Linked DNA regions of Homo sapiens: regions 2 and 3 are each linked to region 1. Evidence: fine-mapped expression QTL. A gene starts in region 1. Each other region holds a variant in brackets. All regions are shown on one strand. Distances are from middle to middle. Region 1 holds the start of DCAF16 (DDB1 and CUL4 associated factor 16). Region 2 has its middle 8.5 kb from the start of FAM184B. Region 3 overlaps LCORL (ligand dependent nuclear receptor corepressor like).

Region 1 (7,460 bases):
TGAAGCTACATCTGTGATGACAGGAATTAGAAGCATTCTAGGTTCCTATCGCTGGAGAAGCGGACTGGTAAAATGTGGAAACACATTCCAAGTATATACAGCAACATGGGTGGCCTTTAAAGGCATAGCTTTAAATGAGAAAAGAGACAATATCAATGTCTCGTTTATGCTACTCTGTAGGGGGGATTTCCAAAATCAAAGTCAGTGAACATTTTCATTATCGAATACACTGAGTTGTGCTAATAAGGTCATATGGTATGGCTTCAGGTCAGCAATTTTCCTCTAATGAGTATTTCTCTGGCTTTCACACACTCCTAGCACAGTGTCTGGCATATATGAGTGGCTCAGTAAATAAAAGAGTCAGAGAATGGCAAAGGCCTGCAGTAAGTAACTACCACAAGCATGTTCTATTTTACTCCAGGGAGAGAACAGTTCCAAGTTATATCTTGGTGATTTGGTAATGTTAGACAAAGACAAATGAGATAATTTTTTTAAGGCAGGATCAACATATATGATGCTACTACAGCAATATAAAGGAAACTGCTTATAACTTTAAGAAGAAACAATGTAATACTTCTAAGTTTAGATTATAGTACTATTACCTTGTTCAATCTGAAAAAGAGTATTCATTCTTTGTCGTGGACCGTAAGTCTTTATTAACTGAGACAGGAGAAGCTGTTGGCTTTTAATTGTGCTGTCCTCTAATATTTTTACTATTTTCACTTCAACCAGATTGCACCTGTGAGATTACTAATTGGCTATACTTCAGTTATTATGTTACTCAGAAAATTTTTAAAAAGGCTCTTACTTTCCCATAATTGTTTTTGTTCTGTTTCACAGTACAAAAGTCAGGAAAAATGTAAGCTTTAAGGCAGTATACTATGTTGTTTAAATTTAATCTAGCACCTTTGAAAAAATATTTTCAGATTATAATATCAAAAAATACTGAACCAATACCCCCATGGCTTTAACCATTAAAACAAAACAAAACAAAAAAAAAAACTAACCGAAATATAGTTAGGCTGACCTCTGGCGGCCAGATGTCTCATTCTTCTGTAACTGACAAAATGGTGTGATGTCTCTGTTGGTGAGACAGCCAAATAGAATATAGTAAAGAAATACTAGCCGGGCGCGGTGGCTCACGCCTGTAATCCCAACAGTTTGGGAGGCAAAGGCGGGTGGATCACCTGAGGTCAGGAGTTCGAGACCAGCCTGGCCAACATGGCGAAACCCCGTCTCTATTAAGAATACAAAAGATTAGCCAGGTGTGGTGGTGCATGCCTGTAACCCAGCTACTTGGGAGACTGAGGCGGGAGAATCGCTTCAACCCGGGAGGCAGAGGTTGCAGTGAGCCGAGATCGCGCCATTGCACTCCAGCCTGGGCGACAGAGCAAGACTCTGTCTCAAAATAAAAATAAAAAAATATATATTAGAAACGTCACAAAGCAAAATTATGGGCAACACAAATGTTACCACATTCTTAACTAGCAGCTGAATATCTACAAAGTTTGAGGAATTAAGCAGGAGAATGGATAAGGTATGGCATATTAATACAATGGAGTACTATAGCAACCTGTCTGTGCCGTAGTTTCCTCATCTTAAAAGAAGATCAAAGTTATCCTACAGGGTTTGTGAGCAGTAAACGAAGTAAAGTGCTTAGCATGGTGTCTGGCACATAATAAAGGTTAATTAAGTGCAAGTTACTATTATGAACATATCAATATGAACCACAGCAATATTGATTGAAAAAAGCCAGATGCACATATAATTATTCATTTAACGGTTAAAACATGCAAAATAGTACAATATCCTCATTCAGGGATTTATTCATGTCATTAATATATTAAAATATGTCATTAAGATATAGAAAGCTGCATGGTAAAAGTTAACAGTAAATTCAGAAAATCCATTACTTCTTCGGAGGGCAGGTAATTCAAAAGGAGAAAGATGTACAGGTGGCTTTAGTAATGTTCTATTTCTTCAGCTGGCAGTAGGTTACTGAGGTGTAGGAGAGGGAAAAACGGCTTCCCTCCATCCTCCTAGGTTCTTTGGCTGGGTTACAAATTAACCTGACATAGACATTAACAAGAAAAAAAACCCGTACTTAATTACATACGCAGAGGAGTCCCACCATGGTCAGATGATTGAATATTATACAGCATCCTACGCTACTCAAGAAATGGGGGCTTGCGGCTTTCTGGGGGATGGTGGCCACAAAGTTGTGGAAAGGTGAGGGGAGGAAATATACGGTGAATAAAAGTTGTCTTGGTATGCAGATAAGATCTCCCAGGTAACAAAAATTATCGCAGAGCTGCCCTCTTTCTGATACAGATCCTTTACTGATGTATATTTCCTCTGTAGATGTCAATTTCTTTTACAACAGGACAGATTTTCAGAGCGACTCCTGTGTCTGCATTTTATCAGAATACCAGCTCAAAATATACTCTAGAAGTATATTGTAGGGTGGCATATTTTGGTCTCCTACAGTCCTATTTTTGGATGGTGCATCCTGAGATCCAACAGAAGTTCTGTCTGATATAATTTCATTTAAAATTTAAAAACCTAGTTCCTACTCTTCTTTATTTTAACCACTACCCGAAAGACCTTTCCATTCTCTTGAGTTCTCCCTTAATACACTGTCCTTATGCACACTTGTAAACAGGGCCTACACAGCTGCACATCTAGAAACGGCAGCAGCTAAGTTAGCCCGCACCCCCCTTCGCAACGATCCCCGGACTGCCTGCACGCCCTGTGGAACCTCGCAGTCGGCTTCACCAGGGCAGGGACTAAGGCCTTCAAAAGACAGCATCCGTCTCCACTAACCTCGGGTCGCCCCGCTCAGCGGACCCAGCAGCGTCGTCTCCCTTCTCAGAGGTGGCCGGGCCTCCGGAACGCGCTACGAACTTTCCTTTGTCGCCGTCTCTCGAAGCGGAGCCCTCGTGTGGGGATCCCCCGCCCTTCGGCCACAAGGGAGGTTGTTATCCTCGGCAGATCTCCCGTTCTCACTCTTGGAGGATCGCTTTTTCTTTCTAGCCTCACGCTCAGCCGCACGACCCAGCCAGGCCTAACGCCAGCAGCCCTTCCCCTCCGGTGGCAAGGCCACTCCGCTCAGCTCCCGCGCCGACGCTACTTCCGGCCGAGTCAAGGCCCCTCCCCCTTAGAAACGCCACTTCCCTCCGTGAAAACGGCTGGACAAGGTTGAACCTAGACGCATGCGCCCAAAGCGCGGGGTGCGAGGTGGGTGGACCCATCGCTTCCCGCTCTCTTCTCCCAAAGCGCTTACGGCAGTCTCGCGGGATTTCCCCCTCTCGCGGGAATTATTTGAACGTTCGAGCGGTAAATACTCCCTGGGGCTGTCATAGAAGACTACTCGGAGAGCGCTGCCTCTGGGTTGGCGGGCTGGCAGGCTGTAGCCGAGCGCGGGCAGGACTCGTCCCGGCAGGGTTCCAGAGCCATGGGAGCGGAAAGGAGGCTGCTGTCGATTAAGGAGGCCTTTCGGCTGGCGCAGCAGCCGCACCAGAACCAGGCGAAGCTGGTGGTGGCGCTGAGCCGCACCTACCGCACGGTAAGCGCTCCCGGCCCCGGCCGCCGCCTCTCGCCCGCCCCGGCCCACCCTCCCTCAGGGGCCCTCCGTGGCCCTCGGGCTCGGCGCACCGTGACTCCAGCCTTGTTCACCTTCGCGACTCACTTCATAGGGATCTGAGGTTCGGAGAAGTCAGGGACTTACCCGAGGTCGCCTGGGCCCAGGCCAGAAAGCCTCCGAAGCCTGGGCGTCGTTCACACGGGCCCCGCCTTGGCTTTTCTGAGCCGACACCCCCAGCTTCTGGGCGGCGTGGACCGTTATTCCTTAGTCCGATCGTGAACGTGGAGAGAAACATTTACGACCACCGAGGCGATCAGACATCAAATATTGAACCGCAGAGTGGATCCTGAATGCGGGGGTTCAGTGGTCGTTGCCCCTGGGGTCATCGCTCCCCGCCGAACATCAAATGATTCTACCCTTGTCCTACGGTTACGTTGAATCCAATCACCAAATACCAAATTATTTTTAGGGCCTGGCCATTCTTATTTATGTACATACTATTTGTTTGTTTTGAGTGGAACCTTGAGAAGAATAGAACAATTAATTTGGGGAAGATGAATTATCTTGAGGTCCAAGAAAAATTGTGAGTAAACATCACAGGGCTTTGAGGATATGAGATAGGATGTGCAAGTTATCTCATAAAGAAACTGCTGGTGATAGGAAGGCCTGAATATGAGAAATATAAAAGCCAGTATTGATTTTGGGTTGTTGAAGAAGCGTATTTGTAACGTACTGGTACTAAAGGCTTATTGAGAATCAAAGATATTGAAAAAAATATATCAAAGGAATCTTTTCACTGTCAAAAGTCAAGCTTGTGTACTCCCATTATAGCCTGGAGAGAAATTCATGCAAATTGATTGCCCTTTGGCTGGTTTGGATAATTAAGAGTTTACTAAATAAATATTTTAATTTGTCTGCATTATTATGGCTAGTGCTTTCATCAGTCTTAGGGTGATGTTGGGAATAAAGGATTTTTATCGGTGCAGTTTATGAAGGGTTTCTTTTGTCTTTCAGATGGATGATAAGACAGTTTTTCATGAGGAGTTCATTCATTACCTTAAATATGTTATGGTGGTCTATAAACGTGAACCAGCTGTGGAGAGGGTAATAGAATTTGCAGCAAAGTTTGTTACCTCATTTCACCAATCAGATATGGAAGATGATGAGGAAGAGGAAGATGGTGGCCTTTTAAATTATTTGTTTACTTTTCTCTTAAAGGTACTATGAAAATGATAGCTTTGGGGAGGGATTTTAGAAAATTTTGCCACTTTAAAAGAGTCGTGGGAGTTTGTATGTTTTTGACAATGAAATATCTAGTGATTGAAAAAACCTGAATGAGTCTACCTTTCATAGGAAATATTAGAATTATCATTATGATTAAAAAGTGGACTTTAACTCCAGCATTAAATTTTTAATGACCTCTTTAAACCAGTTCTCCTTTGTTTATTTTAAATGAGTTCTGTATTTTAGAAGCCTCTACAAAGAGGACTATGTAACTTAGCAAAGACTTCTTTCAGACTGTTCATTTTGAGACTGTATAAAATATATATATTTGCTATACATATGGACCAAGGTAGCATTATAGGTTCTCTTCAGGAAATGAATTGTTGTTGTAACTTCTTGCATTCCGAATGTATAGAGTTCAGATAATATTGATTATTTGGGAGTGGTATGTGACTATGAATAAATTTTGATTTGTTTCTGTTTTAGTCTCATGAAGCAAACAGCAATGCAGTGAGATTTAGAGTGTGCCTGCTCATAAACAAGCTTTTGGGAAGTATGCCAGAAAATGCTCAGATTGATGATGATGTGTTTGATAAAATTAATAAAGCCATGCTTATTAGATTGAAAGATAAGATTCCAAATGTGAGAATACAGGCAGTTCTGGCGCTTTCACGACTTCAGGATCCCAAGGATGATGAATGCCCAGTGGTTAATGGTGTGTGTAGTTTCCTAAATCTTTTTTCAGATTTGTTGATTTTGTTAAATTCTCAGTATTTGAAATTTTTTATTATGGTCTATACATTTGAAGAGTATAGGTAATTAATATATGATTCCGATTAAACAAAAAAAACCTAAGTAGCAACCACCCAGCTTAAAAAAAAAAGTCAGTACTTGCATCCTATCCCAGTTGCATCCCTGTCCCTCAGAAGTAACTATTAAATCCTCAGTTTGGGGTTAATTAGTCTCTTGCTTAAATTAAAAAAAATTTTTTTGCATAAATCACATATGTCTATCTTAATGTTTTCCTGTCATTTTGTGTAAATCATGCTGTATGTATATATTTAGCAGCCAATTATATTTCTATATAATACCTGTTACTGTGTTTTGCCCATTTTTTCATTGGGTTTTTAATTTAAAATACTATTTTAAAAAATTCATTTGCATTCTTTATATATTTTGAAAAGAAATCCTTGGGTTATATGAATTGTAGATCTCTTCCTGTTTTAGGTGGCTCATTGGGGTATCATTGTTTCACTCCCTTTGGGGTATCTTTTTTTTGAACAGAAATTCTTATGTCAAAAATATAAATCTCTGCCATTATGATTCGTATTTTTTAATCTCTTTTTTAAGGAACTTTTTCTTACCTATGGGGTCATAAAGGTAGTTGTATTTCATTTTTCCATATATGCCTAGGTATGTTTTAGGCACTCTTCTGTCCTTTTTGTCCCTATTACCAGTTTTATAATCACTGGTATATTTATCACTATAGTAGTTGGTATTTTTTTTGGTGTTAAAAGATACCCATAATAATATTGTGTAAAACATAGGTATTTGATAGTCAACCTGTACTTAATAATTGAGGTAGGAAAGATGTGAGAAGTACAGATAAATATATTTAAATATAAGAAATGGGTTTGTTTCAATGAATAAAACCAAAAAATATTTCCTTTTAGGTCTCATTAAAAACCAAAATAATGGGCCCTTATAAAGCCATATCAGTTTAAAATAAACTGTCTGCTATAGTAAGCTTTCTCTTAAATATTGAGGAGTAGCACAGACATAATCTTAATGATGAATTTTCTGTGACTTTTAGGGCTATTTGTTTTCACTTTTGGCCTAAGAGCCAGTCCGTTGACTAATTCCCCCTTGTGTCTTTAGAAGGGAAGTTGGTGGCCTGCGCAGCAGTGACTCAGGCCTGTAATCTCAGCACTTTGGCTCCAACCTGGGCAACATAGTGAGACCTTGTCTCCAAAAAAAAGAAAAAGAAGGAAGTTGGTGGGAAAAAAACTTCAACTAAAATATGTGAGACTAAAAAAATGACATTACTTTCTATTACAGATGGGTTCTCACTCGGGCTGGATTGCAGAGGTGTGGCCTCAAACTCCTGGGCTTAAGTGATCCTTCCACCTCAGCCTCCTAAGTAACTGGAAGCGCCACTACCATGCCTAGCTAATTTTTTATTTTAAAATTATTTTGTAGAGACAGGGGTCTTTCTATATTGCTCAGGCTGGTCTTGAACTCTTGGCTTCAAGCTCTCCACCTACCTTGGCCTCCCAAAGTGCTGGTTATAGGCAGTAGCCATCATGCCCAGCCTATCTTTATCACATTAAAGGCATTTTAAAATATCAAAATGTGTGTTATTTTATGACTGTAGTTAAATAAATAATTTCATCAGTACTAAAATGTATTGCTTTATTTTTAGCATATGCTACTTTGATTGAAAATGATTCAAATCCAGAAGTTAGACGGGCAGTGTTATCATGTATTGCACCATCAGCAAAGACTTTGCCAAAAATTGTAGGGCGCACCAAGGATGTGAAAGAGGCTGTCAGAAAGCTGGCTTATCAGGTAAATAAGTTCAATGTCTTGTGTTGGCATATTCTTAAAGGACAAGGAGCCATTTTCTTAAAGTGCCTTTGAAAAATACTTGGCA
Region 2 (7,460 bases), 21 kb before region 1:
CTCTCAGCAGGCCATTAGCTAGGTATCCTTGCCCCTGAGTTTCTGACAGAGCAAGTGTGCACTGGCTGTAAGCACCGCTGAGCCCCCATTTTCAGTTTTGGCTGCGGTCCTCATAACCTAATTATCAGAGGTAAAGGTTGATGTAGCAGATAAGACGCCACAACACTGCGTAACATGAAATTCAGGTAATTTTTCCTCCCACCTCTCTTGGACCCTATCCTAAATGTGTTAAACGTCACTATATCTTTCCAACTATATTTTGTTTAAAAGCGATAAACCATGTGATTTGAGCCTCTTAATTTGCGGTGTGAGGTTTCCTGTCCATGACACCTGGGACAGCCTGCCTAATCGTGTATTTTAAGGTTACTATTGCATCAAGGGAACTGCCTACATGACATTGTTGTAAGTGGGTTTTTGCACAGATGTGCAAGTGTTCCCACAGAAATATTCCCCCGCACCACTTGTTTGCTGGTAGAACTGAATACCTTCCCACAACTTGATTAGTCATTGTTTTTGCCTGGCTTTCTTGCTGCTTACAAAGAGCTCTTCCTTAATAGGGGCTTTTAGCACTTTGCCTATCATATATATTGCAAACATTTCCCGCAGTTAGCGGATTTTTTTTCTAGCTTTCTCATGCTCTATAAACATTTTGAATTTTTATGTAGGAAAATCTGTTGATCTTTTCCCTCACATTTTTTGGCTTTTTCCTCATGCTTAGAAAAGCCTTTTCTACCCCAGATTATGAGGAAAAGGGAATCCATAGTTTATCCTAGTACTTTCATGACTTCATTTAAAATATGGTTTATCTACCTGGGATTTATGCTGATATATGGAATGAGGTTAGACTCCAGACTTATGCTTTTCCAGATGGCTAAATGGTTGTCCCAACAGGTATTAAATAATTCATCTTTACCACGCTGATAATCTAAGTGTTGCCTTAGGTGATTTCTTTGGTAAAAATTTACTTCGGTAGATTTACTTAGGCTAAAGCTTTTAATTAGTATTTTTCTTTCCTAATCAGTTAAGTGGCACAGGTAACTCGATTATTGTTATTACTCCTAATATATTACTCATCTAAAACCAAGTTCACATTCTTGAGTATCTAGAAGGCTTTTTCCCCTACTATGCCTGACTCATTCCTACTCATCTTTCAGATCTCAGCCTGAATGTCAGTTCCATAGGAAGGCTGTCTCTGTAGTTGCAGATCAGTCTGCATGTCCTTAAGATATGTTCTCGTAGCTCTGCATTTCCGTATAGCACCTATACCATATTTTATTTTTAAAAGCTGATGTTTTCTGTCAAACATCTTCCCTTTTTTGAGTGAATGTAAGAACACACGTGTAAATTAGCATCATGTTTTTTTTTTTTTAACTGTAATCCTAACACACATTAACTAGTATTCAGGGTTTCATTAAACGTAGCATGGTATCAAATCTTCCATCTCATCTCCCAGGGAGTAAAATGAAAACCTCTTTTACACAATGGTGACGTTTGTACTGAGATTTCAGTATATTGACATGACACCATGGAGAATGACATTTTGGAATAAAATGTTTTATAGCAAAGTCATAGTCAGATTGTGTTAAATATTGATATGATCATTTGAGCTATGTACTAAGTGGCAACTCAAATTTTTTAATGGACTAAAGTATCGGTAATATGTCTGATCTATGGTTGAATATTGCATTGTAGTTGTTTCTCAATTTCTCTTTTTGGAATTGACTCCTGCTGTTTTTGGTGGTGGTTGTCCTCCACAGTGTCTTTGCAGACAAGTATTATCCAGAGTATTTACCTGGGGTTAGAAATTCTCAAATATTAGTAAACATAAAATTTGTTTATATTTACTAAACAAGGAGTTTGATAAAAATGAGTATTTCTGCTTCCCCATCTCAGAAATTTTGATTCATCGGTCTGGGGTCAGGCATTTAAAACAATCTCTTCAGTGATGCTGTTGTAGATGCTACCAGACACCATGTAGAGAATTGCTTCATGGCCCAACCAACCCTTGCTAGTTCCCTCTAATTGCTTTGTGATGTTCTTCTTGTCCTCTCTGCTATCCACATCCCAAAATCCTTCAATTCTCAGTTCAAATCACACCCATGAGGTAGCCCTGGACTGACTACTCCAGTCAGAGGTGCTGTCTTTGAGCTCCCGTAGCAGTGAGTTATTTCATGAAATGTTAGAAATATTGTATACTAATAACACATTATGACACAGTATTGCAACATTTAAAATAAAGCAACATAATTGAATTTATCATTTTGAGATACTGTGATTCAGAGGTCTAGTTTTAAGTTCAGAGGTCTAGTGTTAAGTTCAGTTTATTTCAACACTGACTTTAATAGCTGTTATAACCGAAAACCTATGAAATTTCATTGATTCAAGCGAAGAATATCATTACCTGTACTTACTAAGTTATGTTATAAGTTTTGCAATCTCATCCACCAATTTTCAAAAAGCACTTTGGTGAAATTCAGTAAAGTTATTATCTTCCCTGACCAATCAATTCTCAAAGCTAATCATAAAATGATGATTTTTGAACACATAATATATACTTATGGTACAATATTCAAAAGTGAAAAAATGAAAAGGTTCCCTCCCACCTTTGTTCCTGGTCACTGTTTCCACTCCCCCAGGGGCAACCAGTTCTATTAATACAGGAGCATTCTGAGCATGTAGATATTATTTTCTGACCCATTTTGTGCTTACTACCATAATGAATGCAGAAGGACATGGTTCTCCCACACCATATCTCCTCCACATTCCTCAGGCTTATTTGCTTAGAATTTCACTAACCACTTAATATGACTACAGTTGTAGTAACATTATGGTTCATGGTCAAAGAATGATCACAATTACTCCTACTTTCTTATACAACACCTGCCTCCCATACTATTTTTTTTTTTAAGTCACTACCTGATGGGGATGTACTGGAATCTGCACTGGCCTCAATGTTCAGCAAAAATCTGCTCTTAGGCACTGACCTTGGCCTTTGGGAGGCTACATAGCTAACTTCCACCTTCAATATTGTCTTTGTTATTCCAGAAATTGTACCTGATCAATAATAATGGTTTGGTTTTCAGACAAACATCATATCTGGTCAGATTAACAGCATCTGCAGTATTAACGAAGCAAGCATATTATTAAGGTGATGCTAATTGCTAAACTACACAAGTAGCTTGACATGGTTTTTTTGGTCACATTAAAGTGACTGAGTTACTGGTCTTTGGACCTCTTTCCTGTCCAAAGTGAATCAAGGATCAGCTCCTTCTATCTTGCGGGTCCACTATCCCCTAGAGCCTGACAGTCATCTGCATCCAGCCAGCAAAATGCAAAAAAGAACACAGAGAAGGTATATTCACTTCTAAAACACCTTGGCCTTGAAGTAACACACCAATTCTGTTGTCACTCCATCGGCAAAAACTGATATGCACTATCTAGATATAAGGGGATCAGGGAAATGTACTTTTTGACTGGCTAGCAATTTTTCATAACTGTACACTATGAAAAGGGAGCACACCTTTTGTTTTTTGAGGCGGAGTCTCACTCTGTCGCCAGGCTGGAGTGCAGTGGCACGATCTTGGCTCACTGCAGCCTCCGCCTTCTGGGTTCAAGCGATTCTCCTGCTTCAGCCACCTGAGTAGCTGGGATTACAGGTGTGTGCTGCTATGCTTGGCTAATTTTTTTGTATTTTTAGTAGAGAAGGGGTTTCACTATGTTGGCCAGGATGGTCTTGATCTCCTGACCTCGGGGAGCACTCATTTGTAATGGACATAAAATTAACTAGTGCAAATAATTCAGACTTATTGCAGATTATCTGTTTTTGTTTTGTTTTGTTTTGTTTTTTTAAACAAGGTCTCTTACTCTGTCACCCAGGCTGGAGTATAGTGGTGTGGACTCAAGTGATCCTTCCACCTCTGCCTCCTGAGTAGCTGGGACCACAGGTGCATGCCACCACCATACCTGGCTAATTTAAAAAAATTTTTGGTAGAGATGAGGTCTCCCTATGTTGCCCAGGCTGGTCTCACACTTCTGAACTCAAGCGATCCTCTCACCTTGGCCTCCCAAAATGCTGGGATTTTAGGCATGAGCCACCACACCTGGTCTGAACGTTCATTTTAAAATAAAGGTAAACAAAAACATTCCAGTTATAAACTGAAGTGAAAAAAAAAATCTCACTGCAATGTAAGCTTTATGAAGGCAGGAATTTTTGTCTGTTTTGTTTATTGCTAAATTCTTAGCACTTGGCACTGTGTAGGTG[G/C]TCAATAAATATTTGCTGAGTGACTGAATGTGCTTCTATTAATAAGCAAAAACATTAATGTGTATGTACTACAAAAGTAAACTGCTACAAATAATAATTGTAGAAAGTGTCAATGTTTTGTACAGAAACTGATACTGAGAACTTTCTGGTAGTTGAATAACAGGGAAGTAGAAGGATAATATTTAAAATAGTAAGACTAGATAATGTCTAAAAGAATAACTCAAAAATGTAAAAAAAATTTAAATAATAATATATGGTAGAATAATACAGATCTGGTTATTTTTCATTCATTCTAATGCAGAATTGGTGTGCTAAAATTCAAAATTTTAAACAAAATAAGTGTTAAGAACTGTTTGATTTTTAGTTAATTTATGCCACTTAGATAATTAGTTTTTAGGAAGAAGTACAATTTGGGAATTCTTCAGTCTTTTGGGGATAACTTAAAAACAGTATGTCAACTTTCCTACCCAAATTTCATGAAAACAAAAAAAACAAAAAAAACTCCAAAGACATAAATATCATATATGATAAATCCCCTTGAATTTGGATAAAGAATGTGAAGAAAAGGAGAAAGTATTAGAGAAAAATGAGATACCCACAAATATTCTCTTCTCAGTAATAAAATTTGAAATTGTATCTTAAATGTGAAAGCTAAAACTATAAATCTTCTAAAAAAATAGAAGACTATTTTCATAATATTCAAGTTAACAAAGATTTGTTAAAGCACTAACCATAATACAAAAAGAAATCTGATAAATTAGATTTCATCAAACTTGAAAACTTCTACTCATCAAAATATACCATTAAGAAAACAAACAATGGCTGGGTGTGGTGGCTCACACCTGTAATTCCAGCACTTTGGGAGGCCAAGGCGGGCAGATCACTTGAGGTCAGAGTTCGAGACCAGCCTGGCCAACATGGAGAAACTCTGTCTCTACTAACAACAACAACAACAAAAACCTACAAAAATTAGCTGGGTGTGGTGGCACACACCTGTAATCCCAGTTACTTGGGAGGCTGAGGCACAAGAATTGCTTGAGCCTGGAAGGCAGAGGTTGCAGTGAGCTGAGATCCCGCCACTGCACTCCTGCTTGGGCATCAGAGTAAGACTCTGTCTTAAAAAAAAGAAAATAGGCAAGGCATAGAATGACATAAGAAATTCATTATATAAATAAACAACTTGTATACAGTGTATATAAAAACTCCTATAGGCTGGGCATGGTGGCTCATGCCTGTAATTTCAGCTGGGGGATTTTGGGAGGTTGAGAGGGTAAGATTGTCTGAGGTCAGGATTTCGAGACAAGCCTGGGCAACAGTGTGAGCCCATTTCTAAAAAATAAAAAAAACAGAACTACAAATTAATAAGAACAAGATAATCTATTTTACAAGTGGCCAAAACCCTAGACAAGTACTTGCAAAGAGGTATCTGAATGTCTCATAAGCATATAAAAAGGTGTTTAACAACACTGATCAAAGAAAATTAAATTAAATTAAATCAAAATTAAATTAAATCAAAGTAAATTAAAGTCACACTGGGATACCATTAAACAACCACCAGAATGAGTAAAATTAAAAGGACTGACAATCACAAGTGTTTGTAAAGATATGGAGCAACTGGAACTTCCATACATTGTTGGTGAGAGTGTAAAATGATACAGTCACATTAAAAAGTGTTTGGCATTGACAAATGGGATCTAATTAAACTAAAGAGCTTCTGCACAGCAAAAGAAACTACCATCAGAGTGAACAGGCAACCTACAGAATGGGAGAAAAATTTTGCAATCTACCCATCTGACAAAGGCCTAATATCCAGAATCTACAAAGAACTCAAACGAATTTACAAGAAAAAAATAAACAACCCCATCAACAAGTGGGTGAAGGATATGAACAGACACTTCTCAAAAGAAGACATTTATGCAGCCAAAAGACACATGAAAAAAATGCTCATCATCACTGGCCATCAGAGAAATGCAAATCAAAACCACAATGAGATACCATCTCACACCAGTTACAATGGCGATCATTAAAAAGTCAGGAAACAACAGGTGCTGGAGAGGATGTGGAGAAATAGGAACACTTTTACACTGTTGGTGGGACTGTAAACTAGTTCAACCATTGTGGAAGTCAGTGTGGCGATTCCTCAGGGATCTAGAACTAGAAATATCATTTGACCCAGCCATCCCATTACTGGGTATATACCCAAAGGATTATAAATCATGCTGCTATAAAGACACATGCACATGTATGTTTATTGAGGCACTATTCACAATAGCAAAGACTTGGAACCAACCCAAGTGTCCAACAATGATAGACTGGATTAAGAAAATGTGGCACATATACACCATGGAATACTATGCAGCCATAAAAAATGATGAGTTCGTGTCCTTTGTAGGGACATAAATGAAGCTAGAAACCATCATTCTCAGCAAACTATCGCAAGGACAAAAAACCAAACACTGCATATTCTCACTTATAGGTGGGAATTGAACAATGAGAACACATGGACACAGGAAGGGGAACATCACACACCGGGGCCTGTTGTGGGGTGGGGGGAGGCAGGAGGGACAGCATTAGGAGATATACCTAATGTTAAATGACGAGTTAATGGGTGCAGCACACCAACATGGCACATGTATACATATGTAACAAACGTGCACATTGTGCACATGTACCCTAAAACTTACATAAAAAAAAAGTGTTTGGCAGTTTTATTAAAAATAAATACACAACTACTCTGATATAGCAATTTGGTGCCTAGGTATATACCCAAAGGAATGAATACACATATCCACAAAAAACCAAACCAAAACAATACACACAGAATGTTTATTATAGCTTTATTCATAATAACAAAAAATTGGAAATAAATGTCAACAGGTAAAAGGATAAATGAATTATGATATATTCATATAATCAAATAGTCTATAACAATAAAAAAAAGAAGAAGTACATTGCTGAAAGAAGCCAGGCATAAAACAATATATACTGTATGATTCCATTCACATGAAATCTGAGAACAACCAAAACTAACAGATCTTTAGAAAAGAAGAGTTATTTCTGCGAGATGTATAGACTAGGAAAGGGCATAAGAGAATTTGAAATTTTTAATACTTTGATCTGAGTGTATACATTTTTATATGATCTTGATACGAATGTATACACATGTAAAAAAATCAAGTACACTTATGATTAGTGCACT
Region 3 (5,000 bases), 130 kb after region 1:
CAGTGTGGTTAAGCCCACGGGCTCCTTCTCTGAATCATGTTTTTAAATGCATGAATATATAGGAAACAAACTATATTAAAATAGTTTTATATTACTATAATATAGTAATATATATGTAATATATATTATGTAATATATGTAATATATATGTATTATGTAATATATGTAATACAGATGTAATATATATGCCTCTTTTAATGCATTAAAATATAAAATCTAGTAGTAAGTCCAATGTCTACCATAATTTCAAAGTAGTTGAGAATGTAAAAAATAATTAAAGATATGATATAAAAATATTTATGATTTCTATTATCGGAACAGGTACTACTAATACCACTGTTGTTTGTTGTCTATGCTTACAGTTGAAGTAAATGTTACATTTCAACCAAGGGTCAATGAAAATAAAAATGTAATTTTTTCAACCATTCAAGTTCATGGACCCATGAAATCCTATCTATGAACTTTTGGGCAAACTATGTGGATCCCAGGTTAAGAATCTCTGAGCTAGAAAGTAAAATTAAAGATATATAAAAATCTGATAAATAGTATCATGAAAATTACAGCAGCAAAGTAGTATATGCTGATTTTAAGTTGCAATTACGAAATGTTATATCCACTGTTTCACTTCTTGTAACTGTGAGGTAGAAAAAGAGAGGTCAGAGAACAACCTGCCAAGCAAAATAAAGTAGAAAAGATTCAGAGGTTTCTGAATATTATCAGAAAAAGAAAACAAATGTTTAAAAATGCATCCCCATCAGGGCCGGGCGCTGTGGCTCACGCCTGTAATGCCAGCACTTTGGGAGGCCGAGACGGGCAGATCACGAGGTCAGGAGATCAAGACTATCCCGGCTAACACGGTGAAACCCCATTTCTACTAAAAATACAAAAAATGAGCTGGGCATGGTGGTGGGCACCTATAGTCCCACCTACTCGGGAGGCTGAGGCACTATATATGCACATATACACTATATGCATATATACTATATATGCACTTATACATTTTTATATGCTACTCAGGAGGCTGAGGCAGGAGAATGGTGTGAACTCGGAAGGCGAAGCTTACGGTGAGCCGAGATTGCACCATTGCATTTCAGTCTGGGCAACAGAGTGAGACTCTGTCTCAAAAAAAAAAAAATCATTGATAACCACCATAACCATAGACTGCCATAATTATTCTGTATCAATGTTCTCAGACATTCCACTCCCATCCTGCTTCATCTAGCTTCCACTTCTTATATAAGCTAACGATATATTCCACCATGCAAGACAAGTTCAGAAGAGATGAATAATAATGGCACAAGTCTTCCAGCTAGCCTCTTACCCTTGATATACAAAACACTTAAGTATTGTAATTGAAAAGGAAGGGTAAACCATTTTCTTCTTATAGGAAAGCAGTCAAGCAATTTACTCTAGATACATTACCCCAATGTTCATATTTCTCTGCACAATAGTCTGAGTTGTAGTGGAAATTTGACCAGAGATTATTTGGAATGCTGAATCATTTCCCATGATAGAATTTTTTTTTTTTTTTGCCTCCTCAGCAGTGATGACACTTGCTATTAAGTATCATAAATCTCTGAACCATCAGAGTCATTTAGATAATGCCTTATTCCTATCACAGCCACTTTCAACACAGCTTTAAAGTTATTGTCTAGAGGCTATTGTGGAGAATTATAGTTAGGGGTGCCACAAATATCTGACTTGTTAGAACATAACCAGTCTAACCAGTATGGTACTCAAGAAATGTCAAAACCTTTATATAAGCTTTTAGATCTACTATAGCTGGGGCATTCTTATGAACAAATGTAAAACAAAGTAAAAGTGTTAAAAAGCAGATTTGTTTCCAAAGAAAAGCAAATATTTTGACAATAGAGTGAAACCCAAATAAGGGTAAAAAGTCAATTCTAAGTCAGTTAAGTTTTGTAAGGACCACTATGGACTACTATAGGATTTAAATGCATTATTCTCTGGTCATGACAAGACCATGCAAAATATCTAAATGCTACAAAGCAAGCAGAAAGGTAAACTGAGGAATTAGGCTTAATAATCAACTACCAAGACTCATACTATTGCTCTATTTTATCTACTGAATGAGCCATAAAAGACCCTCCCAAATGTTGCTTTTTAATCATCTTTAATTTTCAAATAGCATAAGACTGTAAGCAAAATGCAAACAAATTACTATTAGTATTAAGAAAAGCATTTACCTAGAAAATACTGTAATAGGATAATTACAGAGGCACAGAGCTGGGTTTCAACTAGAGATCATCTTTCATTTTTATAAGTTACTAAAAATCAATTATCAAAACTCTAATATAACTATGATACTTGCTCAGGGTAATAAAAGATACTGAGAAAATCTATGTATTTTCTGCTCTCTAGGAGTTAACAACCTAGTATGGAAGAATACAATATAAAGATTATATATTTCTTGGAGACGTCCCCGACCCCTAGGCCACAGACTGGTACCAGTCCATGGCCTGTAAGGAACTGGGCTGCATAGCAGGAGGTGAGCAGCCAGCAAGTGAGCATTACC[G/A]CCTGAGTTTGCCTCCTGTCAGTTCAGCAGTAGCATTAGATACTCATAGGAGAACCAACCCTATTGTGAACTGTGCATGAGAGGAATCTAGGTTGCATACTCCTTATGAGAATCTAACCAATGCCTGATGATCTGAGGTGTAACAGTTTTATCCCGAAACCATCTCCCTGCAACACCTTGCCTGAGAAAAATTGTCTTCTACGAAACCTGTCCCTGGTGCCAAAAACGTTGGGGACTGCTGATCCGGCGGCTCATTTTGTCTTCAGTTTCAACACCCCTGAGATGACAAGAGAATCAAGAGCTCATATATTATTCTCCCTATTGTATCTCCACCGTATCCTACTGTAACAAGCAATGTCCTCCTTGAGACTAAACACTAAACCTTACTCAACTATTTGGTGATCAACCATGGTAACCACAACTCAGTAAGGTAACTCAGTGAGTATCTCATAAATGAAATGACTCTTCACTCTTCAAAGGGAATAAGGACTGCATTAATAATTGAGCAATAAACTAATCTTTTAAAATTGGTAGTTCACAGAAAAACAAAAATGAGAAAACATTCCTTTATTCTCTCACACCTTATACCAAAAGTTACTAACACTCGCTGAAAGGAATTACTAGAGAAAAATGATTTTTCTTCTGGAAGGCTTATGAGTTAGCTGGTTCAAAGGCTGGCAAGAATGAAGACTTAACACATTGCTTATGTTGCTTTCACTTTGGCTTACTATTTCACCACTGATATGCGCTGCAAAGAATAAATACAAAATCAAGGATAAAGTAAGTGGACATGGGCTTCCTGAAATTTCTTTTTATTCTACAGATTTGATGGTCTCAATAGCCCATGTAGAATGAGGAATATGCCAGGTCACAGGAATATAAAGAATACAGAATCATAGGACCTTTGGTTTTTAAAACATTTTAGGAGTTTTTGGCGGGGGTAGGTTAAGGGGTACAGACACATTATCATAAGAATCCATACCATTATCACAAAAGAAAACTTGCCAGACCCATTATATACTTCCAAATTTCATTTGTTACTCACACTTTACTTAAGGTTTTAGTGAAAGCCATGTCCTACCATAGCTTAATGAAGCTACCCACCCTAGGTGGTTTTCCTCAAAAGAGGATATGGGCATGGTATCTTCTTTTAGTCTTAAATCTAGTTTACCCATACTTATTCATGCCACTGTCCATAGTTTTTTGCCTAATTAAAGCCAGGACCTGACCACTGTATTTGTGAATGTCCTAGACTTGTTAAAGCAGAAGTCTGATTCCCTTGTGACTACAGTTTTCCCTATTACATTCTTTAGCAGATACATAGTCTTTTTAAGTAGGCTCATTGATTTTAGTTACTTTAAAATGTACAATTAAATTATTATTGACTATAGACCCCTGTTGTGCTATCAAATACTAGGTCTTACTCATTCAATCTTCTACCTTTTCTTTGTACCTATTCACTATCCCATTCCACATTTTTTAACTGGAATATTTATTTCTGTAAGAAAGAACTGCCCCTTCCTTCTCATTTATTTATTCACTTATATCAGTATTAAAACATGGATATTAATTTTATTCTACAGGTAATAATCCAAATTATTGTTATAACTATTGTTGTTTACTTTGTTGCTCAAATTGTTGCAACTCTGGCCATCAGGAGCTCTTTCAGGATGGCTCCTGTGTTCCCATACTTTTTTTTGAGCACTTCCTTACTTTCTGGCAACACAAAATGCTCCAAGCTCATCTTTATTTTCCTAGCCCCAGCCATGCAAACAACCACTTCTCCAAGGGGCTTTGGTTCCTTTTATTGGAGAATTCTTATTTTATGAAGGATATATATAAATAGAAGTCCTGCACTTCAGCGGACATCTTAGATAATAACCCCTACCTATACGCACATACTATTTTACAGAGCACTTGTCTTAGTCTATTTGGGTTGCAATAATAAAATACTTTAGACTGGATAGTTTATAAACAACAGAAATTTGTTTCTCACAGTTCTACAGGCTGGAAAGTCTACAGATAAACTTTACAAAAACAGTATGAGCAGGCTGTGGATATAATATACAACTAGCCAATAGCAGACAGTAAACTGCAGCAGACAGTTCATAATTATATGTAAAATAAAAATGGTGAAATAATATACAAAACTAATTTATCACACTTCCCAGGTACAGTATTTAATCACACCCTCTGCAAGAATTATAGATTCCTTATATCTTAGCAAATTAAGAAACACAGAGAAAGAATAAGACGCTGAGGTTCCAAAGTACTTTAGAGATAAGGGTAATTCTTGACAGCAGTTAACTACATCACATTATTAAATGAGGTACATGGGAAAACTCATGTATTATTAGAGCATGTTTTACAGAGTACTATTATTATAAAAATTACATTTAAAAGATGATAATCTTTTAAATTATGTGAGAATACAAACAAAAAATATCAGAATCACTCATGACAC

Evidence for each region. PIP is the estimated chance that this variant, and not a neighbour inherited with it, causes the effect. A credible set is the group of variants that fine-mapping cannot tell apart.
Region 2: its variant is the best candidate, but not a certain one, in a credible set for the expression of DCAF16 in whole blood (INTERVAL, PIP 0.81).
Region 3: its variant is the best candidate, but not a certain one, in a credible set for the expression of DCAF16 in whole blood (TOPMed, PIP 0.60).

Annotation. Positions count from the first base shown.
Region 1 is chr4:17,807,624-17,815,083 of GRCh38, forward strand. It overlaps DCAF16 (DDB1 and CUL4 associated factor 16), which reads right to left and starts at 3,134. Exons shown (of 3, transcript NM_017741.4): 1 at 2,824-3,134. NCAPG (non-SMC condensin I complex subunit G) reads left to right here and starts at 3,356. Exons shown (of 21, transcript NM_022346.5): 1 at 3,356-3,565; 2 at 4,598-4,801; 3 at 5,294-5,522; 4 at 7,230-7,375. The coding sequence starts at 3,455. RefSeq lists enhancers at 903-1,052, 2,672-2,761, 2,803-3,314, 2,882-3,041, 3,315-3,827.
Region 2 is chr4:17,786,365-17,793,824 of GRCh38, forward strand. It overlaps a transcript of DCAF16 not described here. Among named protein-coding and RNA genes, the nearest start is that of FAM184B, 8.5 kb to the left of the region's middle. The variant G/C (reference allele first, on the strand shown) is at 4,262.
Region 3 is chr4:17,940,337-17,945,336 of GRCh38, forward strand. All of the region lies in intron 4 of LCORL (ligand dependent nuclear receptor corepressor like), which reads right to left. Among named protein-coding and RNA genes, the nearest start is that of LCORL, 79 kb to the right of the region's middle. The variant G/A (reference allele first, on the strand shown) is at 2,537.